Linked DNA regions of Homo sapiens: region 1 is linked to region 2. The links come from fine-mapping of genetic effects on gene expression. Tissue or cell type: skeletal muscle. Region 2 holds a variant in brackets; the other region holds the start of a gene. All regions are shown on one strand. Distances are between the middles of the regions.

The links. PIP is the estimated chance that this variant, and not a neighbour inherited with it, causes the effect.
Region 1: MTSS1 starts here. The variant in region 2 is fine-mapped to the expression of MTSS1 in skeletal muscle (GTEx, PIP 0.99).

Annotation. Positions count from the first base shown.
Region 1 is chr8:124,725,171-124,732,555 of GRCh38, reverse strand. MTSS1 (MTSS I-BAR domain containing 1) reads left to right here and starts at 4,083. Exons shown (of 14, transcript NM_014751.6): 1 at 4,083-4,672. The coding sequence starts at 4,601. It overlaps LOC105375741 (a long non-coding RNA gene), which reads right to left and starts at 4,017. Exons shown (of 3, transcript XR_002956670.2): 1 at 2,490-4,017; 2 at 1,436-1,498.
Region 2 is chr8:124,561,673-124,569,057 of GRCh38, reverse strand. It overlaps MTSS1 (MTSS I-BAR domain containing 1), which reads left to right. Exons shown (of 14, transcript NM_014751.6): 7 at 522-679; 8 at 1,880-1,987; 9 at 3,299-3,396; 10 at 6,066-6,276. It overlaps LOC105375740 (a long non-coding RNA gene), which reads right to left and starts at 175. Exons shown (of 2, transcript XR_928608.3): 1 at 144-175. RefSeq lists a silencer at 6,993-7,082. The variant G/C (reference allele first, on the strand shown) is at 3,430.

The DNA of each region.
Region 1 (7,385 bases), 160 kb before region 2:
GGCCTCCCAGTTAGCCATGAGACTTAAGGCAGTGTTTGTGAAACTTCTGACCTTCGAGAGGGGTCTTTGCATTAGAGGCAGTTATCTGAAGTGGTTAAGACAGTGGGCTCGAAGTCATGCTGCTATGTTTGAATTCTAGCTCTTTTGCTTCCTCCCTCCTGACCCACCTTCTGTGCCTCAGTTTCTTCATCTGTAAAATAAGGATAATCGAAGTGCTAACTCCTAAGGCTTTGTGAGGATTGAGTGAGATTACTTAAGATAGTACTTGGCACACAGTAAGTATACACTAAAGGTTAGTTATTTGTATATTTATCATTACCATAGCTCATCTATGAAACAAAATTGGCTTAAGCTCGCCCTGGTCACCTATAAACAGAATTCTTTCTGATCGAGTCATTAAATTCTTTAGACAAATTCGGGAGTTATCAGCATATAAAAGTTCCCATTTAGAAACAGGCCCCTTTTGAAAATGAAATTAGCGAGGATCAATTAAAAATATCTGTCACATTGACTCACCCTAAGAGATGTTTTGTATGTGTTTTGTGGATGGCAGGCTGAAAAATGCCGAAATATAACCCTAATGTCCAGAATGTGTCACTGGGGCAGGAAACCAATGAAAGGTGATGAACTGATTAGTAGCAAGGCTGAAGGGGGGTGGCGGGGAGCGTAAAGAGCAAGTTCTCCCCCCACGGACCAGCTGTCCCCCAGGCCTAGGCCAGGTGGGAATGTGAGCCCTGAATTGCCACATGTTCCTATCTTCCTGGAAGTGCTGAAACTTTGTTCCTTGAGGTGAAGTTTCCCAACTTCTAAATATTTTTAGATTTCCCAATTTTTTATTTTTTTTTTTTTAGATTTTCCAATTTTAAAAACTCCTCTGCAGGCCAGTTTGTAGCTTCCAATCATGGGAGTCAAATAGCGGGGTTGGAAGATCCGAAAGGGGAAAGAAGTCATAATATTTTGTATTTCTCCAGGACTATTTGAGGAAGAGAGGCTGTATCTGATGGTTCTAGGTCGCCAAGACATTGTGTCTGCTCTCTAGTGGGGTAGGAACCTGGTTGGGTTCCATTCCTGAGACATTTCTTGAGCACCTGCTTTGTACCAAACCACGCCTGTCCTCCCAGGAGCATCCAATCTCCTTTGCTTTGTTTATGTGCTCCCAAGCTGCCTGCTGACTACTAATTTGACTTCTGCAGTGCCTTGATATGGAGAACTGGGCTCTCAGGGGAACAGATATCCCTGCTGCAAGTTATAAACCAAGACTGTCCAGGACCTGATCTCCCTCTCATTAACAGTATTTCTGGGGCTTAGCTCTTTCTGTACCATATAAGCATGATGAGAAAAATATATATTTTATAAGTAAGATAAGGGTCTGGTCAGAGTAGCAATAAAAGAGCATGAAAAAGATATTAGTTTAGAAAACCTTAAGTTTACATACCATATGAAGCAATTCAGAAATATATCTGGTTATTTCGAATCCATCAGAGGCATCTGAGTTTACCTAAAAGTGTAAAATATTATACATTACACAAAACCCAACATTTCATCATGTAAACAACAAAAACGGGACACCCTATTGTCGCAGAGGCAGATTCTATAACCTGAAACCCCTCCTGCCATAGCCACGTAGACACAGTTGGTAAAATGTAATCAGAATCTCTTTAAATATATGCAGAGCCAGTCTAAAAGAAGGGAAGTCCCCAACAGCCAGAAACAAAGGAGAATCTGAAAACAAGGAAAGAATGTATGACAGCTGGCCAGGCACAATGGCTCACGCCTGTAATCCCAGTACTTTGGGAGGCCGAGGCGGGTAGATCATCTGAGGTCAGGAGTTCGAGACCAGCCTGACCAACATGGAGGCTGAGGCAGGAGAATCGCTTGAACCTGAGAGGTGGAGGTTGCAGTGAGCCGAGATCGCGCTACTGCTCTCCAGCCTGGGTGACAGAGTGAGGCCCTGTCTCAAAAAAAAAAAAAAAAAAAAAAAATTGCCAGGTGTCACTCCCACTTTCCTGCATCTGGGAACACTTTTCCAGCCTCCCTTTCAAGGAGTTCTCATGAGAGACAAGGGCCTGGTGGTCAGGCCCAGGGAAAAAGGCCACAAGAGAGGTATGCTTTGGCAAACATTGCTAAAGTTGGGGTATTTGGGGCATTGAAATTTAAGCATGTGGCAGGAAAGCTAGACCAAGTGTCCACTGGGCTAAGGCCCCTTATCCCAGGAGTTCAGGAGGCTGGGTAAAAGAGAGACCTGGGGCATGGAAGTCAGAAAACCAGGGTTGGATTCCTTCCAACAGTGCAACAAGGACCAGAATGATAATTTCCTTCAAGTAGACATAATACGTATAAAATGCCCAGAATGCACACAGTAGACCCTCAGCAATGTGCCTGGGACAGCACACCAATGTTACAGAAGTGAAATGGGGCCAGGGCTGGACCTGAGCCTTGGCCTCATCCCTGCTTCTTCTGTTGATAAGATTTATCGAATGATTACTTACGAGATGCCAGGTACCACTTGAAGTGCTTTCATCGATCAGCTCATGTAATGTTCAGAACAGCCCTATCAGGTAGAAGCCATCATTATCCCCATTTACAGATGGATGAGGAAACTGAGGCCCAGAAAGGTTAAGTAACATACCTAAAGGCATACAGTTAGTAGGTTGTGAACTGGAGTTTGAATCCAGGCAATCTGGCTCTACAAGCAGTCATCTTGATAGTTAGAATACCAATAGTATTAAAATCACAATAATGATTGGCAGCAAACGATGTGTCAAGCACCCGTTATTGGCAAGGTGAAGATGAGTCGGATGCATTCGAACGCCCTTGGGGACAGGATCCAGCAGGGGTGATCAAGAGATCAGTTACTTCCTGAAGGTAACACCCTTCCGGGTGATTTCGGGGAGACGGATGGGGAAGGTGGGTTGCAGTTAAGAGTTGGGCAGAGTGATCCAGGGGAACATTATCTTCTGCAGCTGTGCTGTGTAACTCCATGCATCCCTTTGATCCATAAAGTTTTCAAAGCCAGACCTTTTCCCATTACGGAGTGAATCTGACACAAGTGTACAGAATTTTGCACTTGGTTTCTTTTGGCCCCACTCCCCCCAGTCTTTTCTTTTGTTATGTTTTGTGCTTCAAATGGTTAGCTCAAGGGTTAAAGGAACTGTCCGGAGTTAGGTGCCTATGTCTTAATATCTTTTAAAAGTTGCTCATTTGATTCTCCTCCCTCTGGCCCATTTGGCGTTCATCTGAATGAGGGCTCCTGGTTATGCAGATAGGCAGTGGAGCTGTGAAAATGGACCACTAGGCCCCAAATCAACCTGGGCACATTTGCGCTCTGCAGGTTCAACCTCCCAGGAGGGCTCCCTGCGGTTATACCAACGCTGGCTGCTCTCAGTGGGCCTGAAAACCATCAACCGTCCAAGTCATAGGCAATCAGCAATCTCGATAGACTGATGGATCGTGGACAGAAGCTCTAACGCTGTTTCCATTCATTTAGCAACAGCAAATCAATCCACTTTCCCAGCATCCTGCAACTTTATCGAACTCGGCATCCCATTGCAGGATACGCCCCCGAACTCTCCTTAATTATATATTTCGCTATTTGCAATCAGGACTCGGCGATGCAGTCCTGACATCAGAGAATGGGCGTCTTCTCAGAAGGCCGCAGTAGCGGCAGCAGCTTTCCCGCCCTACTGAGCGCTCACTACAAGCGGGCTCTGGGCTAGGCGCGCCACCCGTGCAAGTCCCCGGGGAGCGGCGGTGCACCCTCCGTCCCGCGCGCTCGCAGCCATTGTAGGGGTGGGCGCTCGCCAGGCAGGGTGCCGACACGCCCTCTCCGCGCTGCGACGGGCGGCCGGGGGAGGAGAGGGTGCGCTGTGCGCACCGGAGGGAGAGGCTCCGGCCCAGCGCCGCCTGCCCGCCAGCAGACCAGCAGGCTCCTCTTTGCGGCGGGTGCCCCACGCGCCTCTCGGGCGCGCGCTCCCAGCCCCGCCCGCGTGCGGCGGCCGCACGGCCGCGAGAGCGCGCCTCCGCTTGGCGGGCACGGCCGCGAGCGCGCGTGCGCCCCTCCGAACGTCCCCGGGAGCCCAGCCAGAGCGAGCGCCGGGGCCGGGCGCGCAGGAGTGAAAAGGAGGCGGCGGCCGCAGCTGCGAGCAACAGATCCGGACGCCGCGAGCTGACCCGCTCTGCTGTTGGGCGATTTTTTTTTAATTGCAGAAAAATTTATTAAATTGGAAAATCTTGCGTTTTTCAATGGCGCTGGCCCCGGGTCAGCGGGCGATTTTCTCTGCATCAAGATGGGCTTTGCCGTTTCCGTAGTGGGCACCAGTGGTGGCCTGATTGTCAGTCTTCTCCCGGCATTTTTAAGGCCAGGAGCCGAGCGCTGCTTGTAGGCGAATACCCTACAGAGCGGTTTGGCTTTTTAAATTACTGTTATTATTTTGGGCAGAGAACAGTCGGTCTGGTGCACCCCGTCCTCGCTGCAGAAGAGGCTGCGAGTCCGAGGTGGGTCTCTCGGAAGGTGAAATTCCTTCTGGGGTGAGCGAGCCCCGGCCCCGCGCGCAGTCCAGCGGCCCCGCGTGTGTGCCCTCGCCCTGCCGGAGCCGGGAAAATGGAGGCTGTGATTGAGAAGGAATGCAGCGCGCTCGGAGGCCTCTTCCAGACCATCATCAGCGACATGAAGGTAGGACGCCGGGGGTGCGGCTGCGGCGCCGGCCGCCGCGCTCTGACCTCGCCGCCGCGCTTCGCCTCCACCCCGGGCCGGGCACCCGGCCCTTCCCTGCAGTGTGGCCACCGGCCACCTGCGGGAGCTCCCGGCCGGAGTGTCACCTGCTCACCCGGGGCGCTGCTCCGGGCTCTGCGGGGTCACTGGGCGGGTGGCTTCTCTGGGGGGTGTCTGCTGTCCCACGCCATCTCCCCCGCTCATTGTCCCAGGGGGCGGCACCATTTCTTTCCCTCGGGGGCTCAAGGCACTGGCTGCAAGTTTTCCCATTGTCTGTCCCTGAAGTAAGTGTCTGGGACCCGCGGGGGCTGGATGCCCGGGAGGACACCTGATTCCTCCGGGCACGGGGTGGGGGCGCCTGGCGCGGTGGTGGGGAGGAAGTGGGGGCTCTGCCCGCTCGCAGGAAGGAGTCCCCTAGCCTAGGAGACTGAGAGGGAAAGCCAGTCCCTCCTTGGCTGTCAGGTCTACTTGGAGTGGGGTATCTGAGCAAATTAGTTATTAATTGGGCCGTTCCGAAGCTGGTAAAGGTGTGCGTGCCCTCTCTTAGCCCTCCCGCGGGGCGCGGGGCCGAAGTTCCCGGGCAGCCTTGCAGGGGCCCCGCCTTCTCCCAGCTGAGCCTAAAGGCAAGATTGGGGCCCCCGAAATAACTGTATCCTGCCCTCCCAGACCCAAACGGACACACACTCTAGGTTTTCTCTTGGAAGGGTTGTGAAGATGGTGTGTGTGTGCGCGCGTGCATGTGTGTGTGCGCGCGCGCGCGTGGGGGCGGGGAACAACACCCTGGTTTTTTCCTGCAAAGGGTGGGACTGGGGATAACCTGATCCTCGGATGTGGATTTTCTGGTGCCTAGAGATAGACCAGGGCCCCGTGTTATTCATCCAGAGGAAATAAAACCAGCCGCGCGAGCTGGCTGGAGGTGGGAATTGGGAGCGGTGGGGGAAATTATTTTTTTAATGTGTATTTAGGGAGCTTCTCTTTGGCTCTGGCCCAGCCCCAGTTTGCCTCAACAGATCCAGATCCGGGGAGGTGGTGTTTAATTAAAAGCTCGCTTCCAAAACGAGTGGGCAGGTTTGGAAAGCTGTGCACCGAGTGGGTGTGGACAGCCCCTCTTCAGCCGCTGCCTGGGCGCCTGGAGGAGCTTTTGTCTGATGAAGTGTAAGGTTTAGAGAGGCTTCGTGCCTCGGAGATGGTCTTTGGGAAGGAATGCTCAGCTGTCATGGCCTGCTTCCACCTTTCAGAACCAACTGCCACCTCACCCAGGGTGAACTTTATCAAGCTGCCTCTGTCCTGGTTTTGTCCATTTTGAAATCTTTCTACAGCTCTCGTGCCTTTTGTCACAAATTGTCCTTAGCATAGCATAATCTGCAGCCAGACTCTGCTTGCCCAGGAATGCTTATAGTCCAGGCACTTGGAATTAGATGGATTATTCCCTGTTGAAAGACAGCCCCTTTCATTCTGTTGCCCCCAGTGCACACTGACGGATCTGTCCACTGTAGTCCTGGAGTGATCACATCTGGAGTTTTTTCTCTTTGTTCTTTAATCCAGAATCCAGGCTCGGTTCTTCCCATTCACTGTTTGAATCGAAAGCCGTTCAGAAGGTGACCTGCCCAAAGGGTGGGCTGTCCTGCTTTCCACCTGCCATCCTGTGGCTGCGTGGCACTATGCCCTGGCTGGGGACTCACGGGTGCCAAGGTGGTGTTTTTTCCCCTGCATGGTTCCAGTTAAAAATAAAGACATTTTCTTTAATGCCCAGTCACGGCGGAATCTAGAGTTTGTGTATCCTGACTTCTTTCGGTTTGAGTTTAGTAGGTTTGTTCAGTATCCTATGGGAAATCATTTATTTTAAAGTTTTTTTTTTTTGGTTTGTTTGTTTTGGCAGTAAAATTTTAAAAGCAAGGTGGAATGGAAGACTAAAACATGCCTTGGGTTCTGCAGAGTTTTAGACTTTTGGAGACTCGAGAGATGAAGAGAGAGGGAATGTCTGATTTCCAAGATTGTTTATGCATAAGACAATTCTTGAATATTTTCTTGGACTTTGCTTCTTAAAAGACTTCATCATGGATTAGATGACAGTGACATTTTAAATGGAAATTAAAAATTTTTAAATTTGAACAGATCTGATAAGCAGTATATAGTGTGCAGATGCATGAAGTCACCAGCAACAAAAGTCAGTTTTTAATATCTGAAATCAACTGACTTTCTAATGACCTGCTTATCCTCTTGTTCTCTTCTTTAAACTCCCATAATGGGTTTATAATGCCTTTGGTCTCCTATCTGTTTGCTCTGAGGGAAAAGCGTAAATGTCGGAAACCCATTTGGAATGCCATCTTGATAAAAATTTTTAGGTTATTTTCTCAGAAGTGATGTTAGGCTGGGTGAGAAAAGGATAAGGAAAATGGTTTTATTAGTAGCATTTGATTCTTCAAAATGTACAGCAGCACAGGAAGGGAGTCAATTTCCTCTTTGGAGAAAAAAAGAAAACAATAAAAGGAATAATTTCAAGGCCTGGCACCCTCCATCTTCTGAAACCAGAGAACCTCAAGACATGGAAAAGCAAGAGAGAGAGGATTCTTTGTGCTTTCCTCTAAAGATGCTTCATCTAAGTCCTCGGCTGGCTGTCAGGGCATGGGTTTTATCCTTTTCAGGCAGTAAGGTGTGGAAGAAATCCTGACTT
Region 2 (7,385 bases):
GGGCCCCCAGAGCCAGGAGAGCGGATGCTTGCCACCTTTGTCTTTAGGAGCAGATCCTTCTATCCAGACAGAGGCTCTTTGATTGAGATTGACCCAACAAAGCCAGCCCGTGCCCGTTTTTGGAAACACCCACAGGCTCTTACCTTGTTTCCACATCTCTTAGCCTCTTCAGAATGTTCTGCAAGGAAAGAATGCTGTCTGGCTCTGTGTTCCAGGGTTGTGTTGGCAGAAGAGTTGGTGGGGGTTGTGCAGTGTGAGAAGGCAAGTCATGAAGAGTTGCCCCAGGACATTTTCCTTGTCAGGAATAAGCCAGGCTAAATGTGCCCTTTGGGCATTGAAAATTGGAAATGGCTGGTCCTAGAAAAACAGCTGCCTTAAATCCTTTTGGGGCATGAATAAATACTTTTTTTACATCCTGGAAAATTGTGGTTTTGACTCCAGCAAGGACCCCAGGGAGGAGGGGCACTTGTTCCAGAAGCTGGTATTTCAGCAAGCCGTGCTTGGGTCTCTGTTTTTTGCAGGGAGAGGTGATATCCAGCCTCAGTTGGACAGTGCTCTCCAAGATGTCAATGATAAGTATCTCTTATTGGAAGAAACAGAAAAGCAGGCTGTCCGGAAGGCTTTGATTGAAGAACGTGGCCGATTCTGTACCTTCATCTCTATGCTGCGGCCAGTGATTGTAAGTTAATGGAAAACTCCAGAAGGTTTAAACTGCTGGTGTAGAGGTGGCTTCCTTCTAATTTTATCCATCCACTGTTGAGTCATGGAGAATCTACTGTCAGGAATCATGATGGTGGTATCTCCTGTACAGACCAGCGATTCAGTGCAAGTTGATGGCCATGTAGCTCACTCCTCATTCACTGTTCTAGTACCACTTGTTCCCCGTTACTTTGTCTCACCAAGTCAAGAAGGCCCAGCAGGGTGGTTCTCAAAGTGAGGTCCCCAGGTCAGCAGCATCACGTGGGAACTGGCTAGAAATGCAAGTTCTTGGGCCCAACCCAGACCCACCAAGTCCAAACCTCTGGGGGTGGGGACCCAGTCGTCTGTGTTTTAAAGGAGCACTCCAGGTGGTTTTGAGACTCACTGTTGTAGCCGAGTACTAAGGGGTGACCATGAGATGAATATCCAAGAGCCTCAATGAATCAATTTAGACTTAATTTTTAAGGAAATCATTTGCATGCCGTAATTGAGAACTTGCACTGCAGGCGTTCTGGAAGCTGATTCGAAGGTACCAGCTCATTTCCCTTAGCCCTAGCAAAATGTCTGAATTTGAGTTGTTCCCCTGAGCACAGAACTTTTCCATGGATCGTTCTAGCCCGGCCCGTGGTCCCAACTTGGCACTTCGATAAAGCACATGGGATGTTTCTTCCATGGTCCCCAGCTCCTGTCTTACTTGTCTTTTACTAAGTTGCTGGAAAAGCACAAGAAAGAAGGGGAAAAGTTAGCTTCTGTTGAACACACAGGCACTGTCACAAAGATCTGGACCAAAATATATCCAAGTCGTGTCATCCATTGAAGCTAAGCAACTTCAGAAAAGGGCCACAGTATGAAGAGGGCTGTGCTGCAGGATCCCGTGGGAACACACAGTCAGACCATCTGAGCAGGCCTGGCAGTCCCCCAGGCCCTGGGAGGGAGGCCTGTGTGTTCCCCACTGTCCCCTGTGCACAGGTCACTCCTCCATTATGGCAGATTTCTTTTTCCATCTCATTTCCCAAAAGAAAAGGCATGTAGTGCCTTCAGCAAAGATTTGCCAGTCCCAACAGTGCCTTTTCTGAAAAACTGAAAGGGTTATACAGAGACCCTAATGAAAACAATTGGACTAGAGCGATGAAGGGAATCACTCATGATAATAACATTTCATGAATGACTTTTCCTTCAGGAAGAAGAAATCTCAATGCTAGGGGAAATAACCCACCTTCAGACCATCTCGGAAGATCTAAAAAGCCTGACCATGGACCCTCACAAACTGCCCTCCTCAAGTGAACAGGTAGGCTTCAGGGGTTAAGCACTTACAGGATCAAACCAAAGAGGTAAAAGCTCAAGGCCCTGAGTGTTCCTGTGGCATGTGTCACGTCTTAAATTGTAGTCATATTCACCACGTCCTTCATGATGTAATATATGAAATCACCACAGCGAGCTGTTACATAGAACCTATTGTGTGTCAGGCACTGTCCCAAGCTCTTTACATAGCCTGACTTCCTCCATTCATCTTCATGATTATGCTTGTTTTATAGAGAATGATGCAGAGGCACTGAGAGATGGAGTCACTTAGCCAGGTTCAGCTAGCTAGCAGGTAGTGGAACTGATATTTGAACCAAGTTGGTCAGGTTCCAGATCCCATGCACTTAATTGCTGTGTTCATCTGCCCTCTAGAAGTCAACCCTCCTAAGAACACGTCGCTGGTGTGTTTTGATTGACACTGTCAACCATTCTCCATTTCTCCCATTCTAATTGAGCAATGCATGGAGAGCTCTCTCATCTTATGAAAAAGATGACATTTTTATGCTTTATTCATTTAATTCACATCACACGCACACTATGGGAAGAGACATATTTGGGGGAACTGATGAATCACATGCTGGCTTTTGTGCTTGGTAACAATCTTTTCGTCTCCTTGGAGAGCTGGCTCAGAGGGCAAATTTGGGAGCTCATGTTTTCTATTCTATCAAATTATATTTATTAGACCAGAGCATGCATGCATTCACTTGACAAATAAACATTTACTGAGTGCTTCTTATGTGAATGAAAGGTGGACCTTATACTCATGTGGTCCTTTGTCAAGCAACGGAGACAGATATAGAAATAATGGTGAAAGAATTGGCTTGTTCTTGATTCTGTCAGGCTTTAAAATTTCTAGTGCTGGTCAAATAGGGCAGAAATGACCACTGAATATCAAGTGGTTAAAATGCGCTACCAACAAGTCTGGGAACCATGATTAACTTTATGGCATTACAAGAGGAAAATCCTGTAAATTCTAGCCTTGGGTATAAATGGCTGTTATAAATTATTAATTGGTCACTGTATTTCTCCCTCTCTCGACTGATATTTCATGATTTTCCTTTTCCCTTCCTTTCCTTCTCCCTATTAATTATAGTTTTACTTTCTCAGTAAAAGGATTATGATATTGATGGATTTGGTACTGTGGCTCTTCAATTTAAAAAAAATTTTTTTAACATGTTTTGCTTTCATTCCCACCCCCACGATGGCAGCGTTTTGATGCTTTGGTGGATGTTAAGCTTTGATGGCTAACGCTTCCCCTCTCAGCACCTCATTCACCCAGCTGGCTCTGTCCCCTTAGGTGATTCTGGACTTGAAAGGTTCTGATTACAGCTGGTCGTATCAGACGCCACCCTCTTCCCCCAGCACCACCATGTCCAGAAAGTCCAGTGTCTGCAGGTGAGTGAAGCCGGGGTCCACTCTTGCTTTCAG[G/C]ACGGGTCATTTTTCTTTATGCTAATGTGAGCAATGGAGCCAGTCCTTATCTCTTAGAATGGCTCATTCTCAAACAGGAAATGGGATGATGAGCTGAAAGAATGGTAATAATTTTGGTCTTGCTCTTTAGTCTCTGGATTAATTTTGGATCAGAAAGAAAACCCCATTAGCCCTTGACTTGTGGATGTAGCTTATTCTCTCTCACTTGTATGTTGTAGGGATTTTCCTATTCTATGAGATCACATTTGATTTTCCTGTTTAGCAGAGTGAAAACCTTCTAAGGCCTAAAAAATGGTGAACCTGGGTTGATTTTTACACAGGCTGATCTCACTGTTGCCAGAACAAACGAAGGAAGTAACAATGGCTTATGCCCTCATTTCACCCCATATTTTTGTTTCAGGGTTTCATAAAGTAAATAGAGTTCTTGCTCTGTCAGTCACTGCTACTACTACCACCACTACCACGACCACACCTGTATTAATTAGTACTGTTCCCTATTGGAACAAAATCTGTTGGAATAGTTCTGCCATCTGCAAAACTGTTGTCTAGCAATTTTCTGTTAGAAGTCAGTTCTTGGCTTGCCGAGTAGGAAAGTTTCTTTTCCTCTCCTTGAAAGATGGAAGCATGATGTACCATCTATCTCTCTTGGTATAGTAGTCCTGTTACTCTTTTAATTTAACTTTCAAAGCCAAATGAGTTTCCACTTCCTGTGTATTAGCACTGAGAGTAGAGGGCAGGATGTATCTGCTCAATCTGTCTGTGGTGATGTTTTGGTGCACGCTGATGCCTATTTCCTTTCACTGCGGAGCTTGTACACTACACACTTAGCAGGAAGTTCAGACCTAAGACGCTGCATCCTGGACATTCTGCCCCCTGAAGATATTGGTTTGTTTCTTATCTTCTGTCGACTGTGTGTGTGTGTGTGTGTGTGTGTGTGAGTGAAAGAGAGACCTTTTTATTGTTGCCAAGAAAAATCTCTCATTAGTGTAAAACAAAGTTGCGTGGCTGTTTTTTTCTTCCTTATAATTTTAGTTTGAGTAGAAAACCATGTTGCACTGACATCTGCAACTCTGAGGCTGCCGGGGTGGAGTTGCTGTGAGCTTTACTGTCGGTCCCCAACTGCCGCCTTCTGGCTGACTGGAGGGGAAAGTCAAAAATCATGATATTTATTCCTCACTGCAGCGATTTCCTCCAGCACGCTCCCCTATGTCTGTCTGAACATTTGCACCAAGTAATTCTAGTGTAGAACAGTCACGCGGCCCTTGAGTACCTTATTAGCTGCCAGATTTTGCAAGCCAGAGTCTCTTGCAGGCTTAGGAGCAGAAACCATGACTTTTCCTATCCCAGCCCTAGTTATTTACTTCATCCCTGCTGCTGCCTCTACAACTGCTCTTTTTATTTCAGCTCCGTTTGTTTGGACCATGGGAGTCTGTTTTCTGCTTTTTATGATCTAAGTTACTATACAGAGTGTGGAGCATTTTTTTTTTTTTTTTTTTTTTGAGATCGGGTCTCGTTCTGTTGTCCAGGTGGAGTGCAGTGGCATAATCTCAGCTCGCTGCAACTTCTGCCTCCTGGGTTCAAGTGATTCTCCTGCCTTGGCCTCCCAAGTAGCTGCGATTATAGGTGCCTGCCACCATGCCTGGCTAAGTTTTGTATTTTTATCAGAGGCGGGGTTTCACCGTATTGGCCAGGCTAGTCTTGAACTCCTGACTTCAGGTGATCCACCCGCTTTGGCCTTCTGAAGTGTTGGGATTACAGGCGTAAGCCACCGCACCTGGCCAGGAGCATGTTTCTTTTGAGTGGAGATGGAAGGCAGACAGAAATCCAGAGCGGGTGTGTCATTATTTGACATCCTGTTTACTGTGCCATTTCAAGAGCAAACAGCTGAGCATTGATTGCCCTTAGTCGCTGAAAGCTGCCTGCCTCTTGCCAAGTGTGCTATTGTGCCAGACCCACAGATATTTTAACACAGAAACAGCTGGGGTCAGAGTAAAAACATTAATTAAAGCATCACTTTGTTAAAAGGTAAAACATATGCACACCAACATAGTGAGTTGATTTGCTGATGTTCTTGACAGCGGGCTTGACCAGACTCAGCTAGGATGAAATCACCTCAGCAAATCCATCGGCAGTGCTTAGCTGGGTTGGCCTTGGTCATGTGGACCCAGATGGTCCATCCAAGAACATTCCAGTCATGCTGAAGCCCCAGTGGACTTTTGCTGCAGGCTCATGGTTCCTGCAGGCAGATTAACCCTGTCCCTTTTCTTGCTACTGACATCAGCTCCCCTCGTTTTGGTGGTAGGCGAAGCAGCAGAGTTGGGCGCACTTGACGTTTTAGAACCCCAGACCTCCCTCGTAAGAATGCCACATGGTTACCATCGGAGACCTGAGTCCTGGCAGCTGTATTTCCCCCTGGGTCACCTGGAAAAGCATTTTGTTGACTACCTTCATGATTTGGTGTTTTGAAAACGTGTTTTGTGGTTTGCACTGCATCTCCAGGGCAGAGAGCTAATTGCATTATGTTGTGCTTCTCTCTCTTCTGCCTCATCTGTTCCCCTCCTTCCTCCTTCCTCTTACCACTGCTCCCCTTTCTTTACCTTCCGTGCCCACCCCTCACCCCTGCTTGTCCTCCACAGCAGCCTGAACAGTGTCAACAGCAGTGACTCCCGGTCCAGCGGCTCCCACTCGCATTCCCCCAGCTCACATTACCGCTACCGCAGCTCCAACCTGGCCCAGCAGGCTCCTGTGAGGCTGTCCAGCGTGTCCTCCCATGACTCAGGATTCATATCCCAGGATGCCTTCCAGTCCAAGTCACCATCCCCCATGCCGCCAGAGGCCCCCAACCAGGTAAGGGTGCCCTTGGCTCCAGGAGCAGCTGTCACACCTGGTGTCCTGACCACTGTCAGTGGCCAGAACCAAAGAAGCACCTTGGCTTAGACAATCCCCTGCCCACTGACTTGAGAAACCTCTGGTTTAATTTCTCATCTTTAGATGTATTGTTCCCCTAAAGGGAGAGGTGCTATAAGTGGGTTTGAAGCCTGTCTCCATGGTGGTAATGGTTGCATTACCACATCGATTTGGGGAGCTCTCACGTAAGTAGATGGATTGAAAGAGGTTTGACCACTCTCAGGCGTCCCTGTAAGTGCCCAGCTTGGCATAATTAAATGCTATAATTAAAGGGCATTGCACAATGGGGACACCTCCTCCCCCACATCTCAGGTTCTCCCTGAATGGCTGAGATTCTATGGTTGAATAGCGCTTCCGATACCATCCCTTGGCGCTCTCAGGTTCCTTTTATCAATCTGTGTTGAGAATGAGAATGAATCATCAGAGCTTCTGCACATAATTCTGTTGGCACTTAGATTCTGGAAGGGAAGGTGTGGCAGAATCTCTTCAACTACAGCTGGGTTTAATGGTGCTAGGCCCAGCCCAGCCCAGTGGTTCCAGCTGGAGCAGAACGCAGGAGCTGGCCAGGGCATCTGAACACTCTTCATGTGCATCATCAATGTATGTGATCCTCTCTCTGTCCTCTCTCCCTTAGTGTCATTGGGTTGGTGTCGGCCTTGAACTTGGCAAGTAGCTCTACATACAGAATGCTGGGTGCCCCACAGCCCCACCTGCTGGGAAACCCATGTCAGAGCTCTGCGTTCCTCTCCTCACAGCTCAGCGCTCCCATTAGCATTTTTCAGCCATCCTGGGGACTGTGGCCTCTGTCTGCCTTCCTTGGATACACACTCAATTTTAAACGCACTCAGAGCCAAGAGCCACGGCTATAGTTTGAGAGTGCTTGAGAGTGCGTGTCCCACCTGGGGTGCTTGGCTTGGTCTGTAAGGAGCTCCTCTTCCCCGCTGTGTGCTTCACTAAACCATATGTGCTGCTCACAAGCAGAGAGGGCAAAGGGTCGGGAGGAGGGCTGGAATGTGCAGTTCCTCCGGGCTGTTCTAGTGTGCAGCATA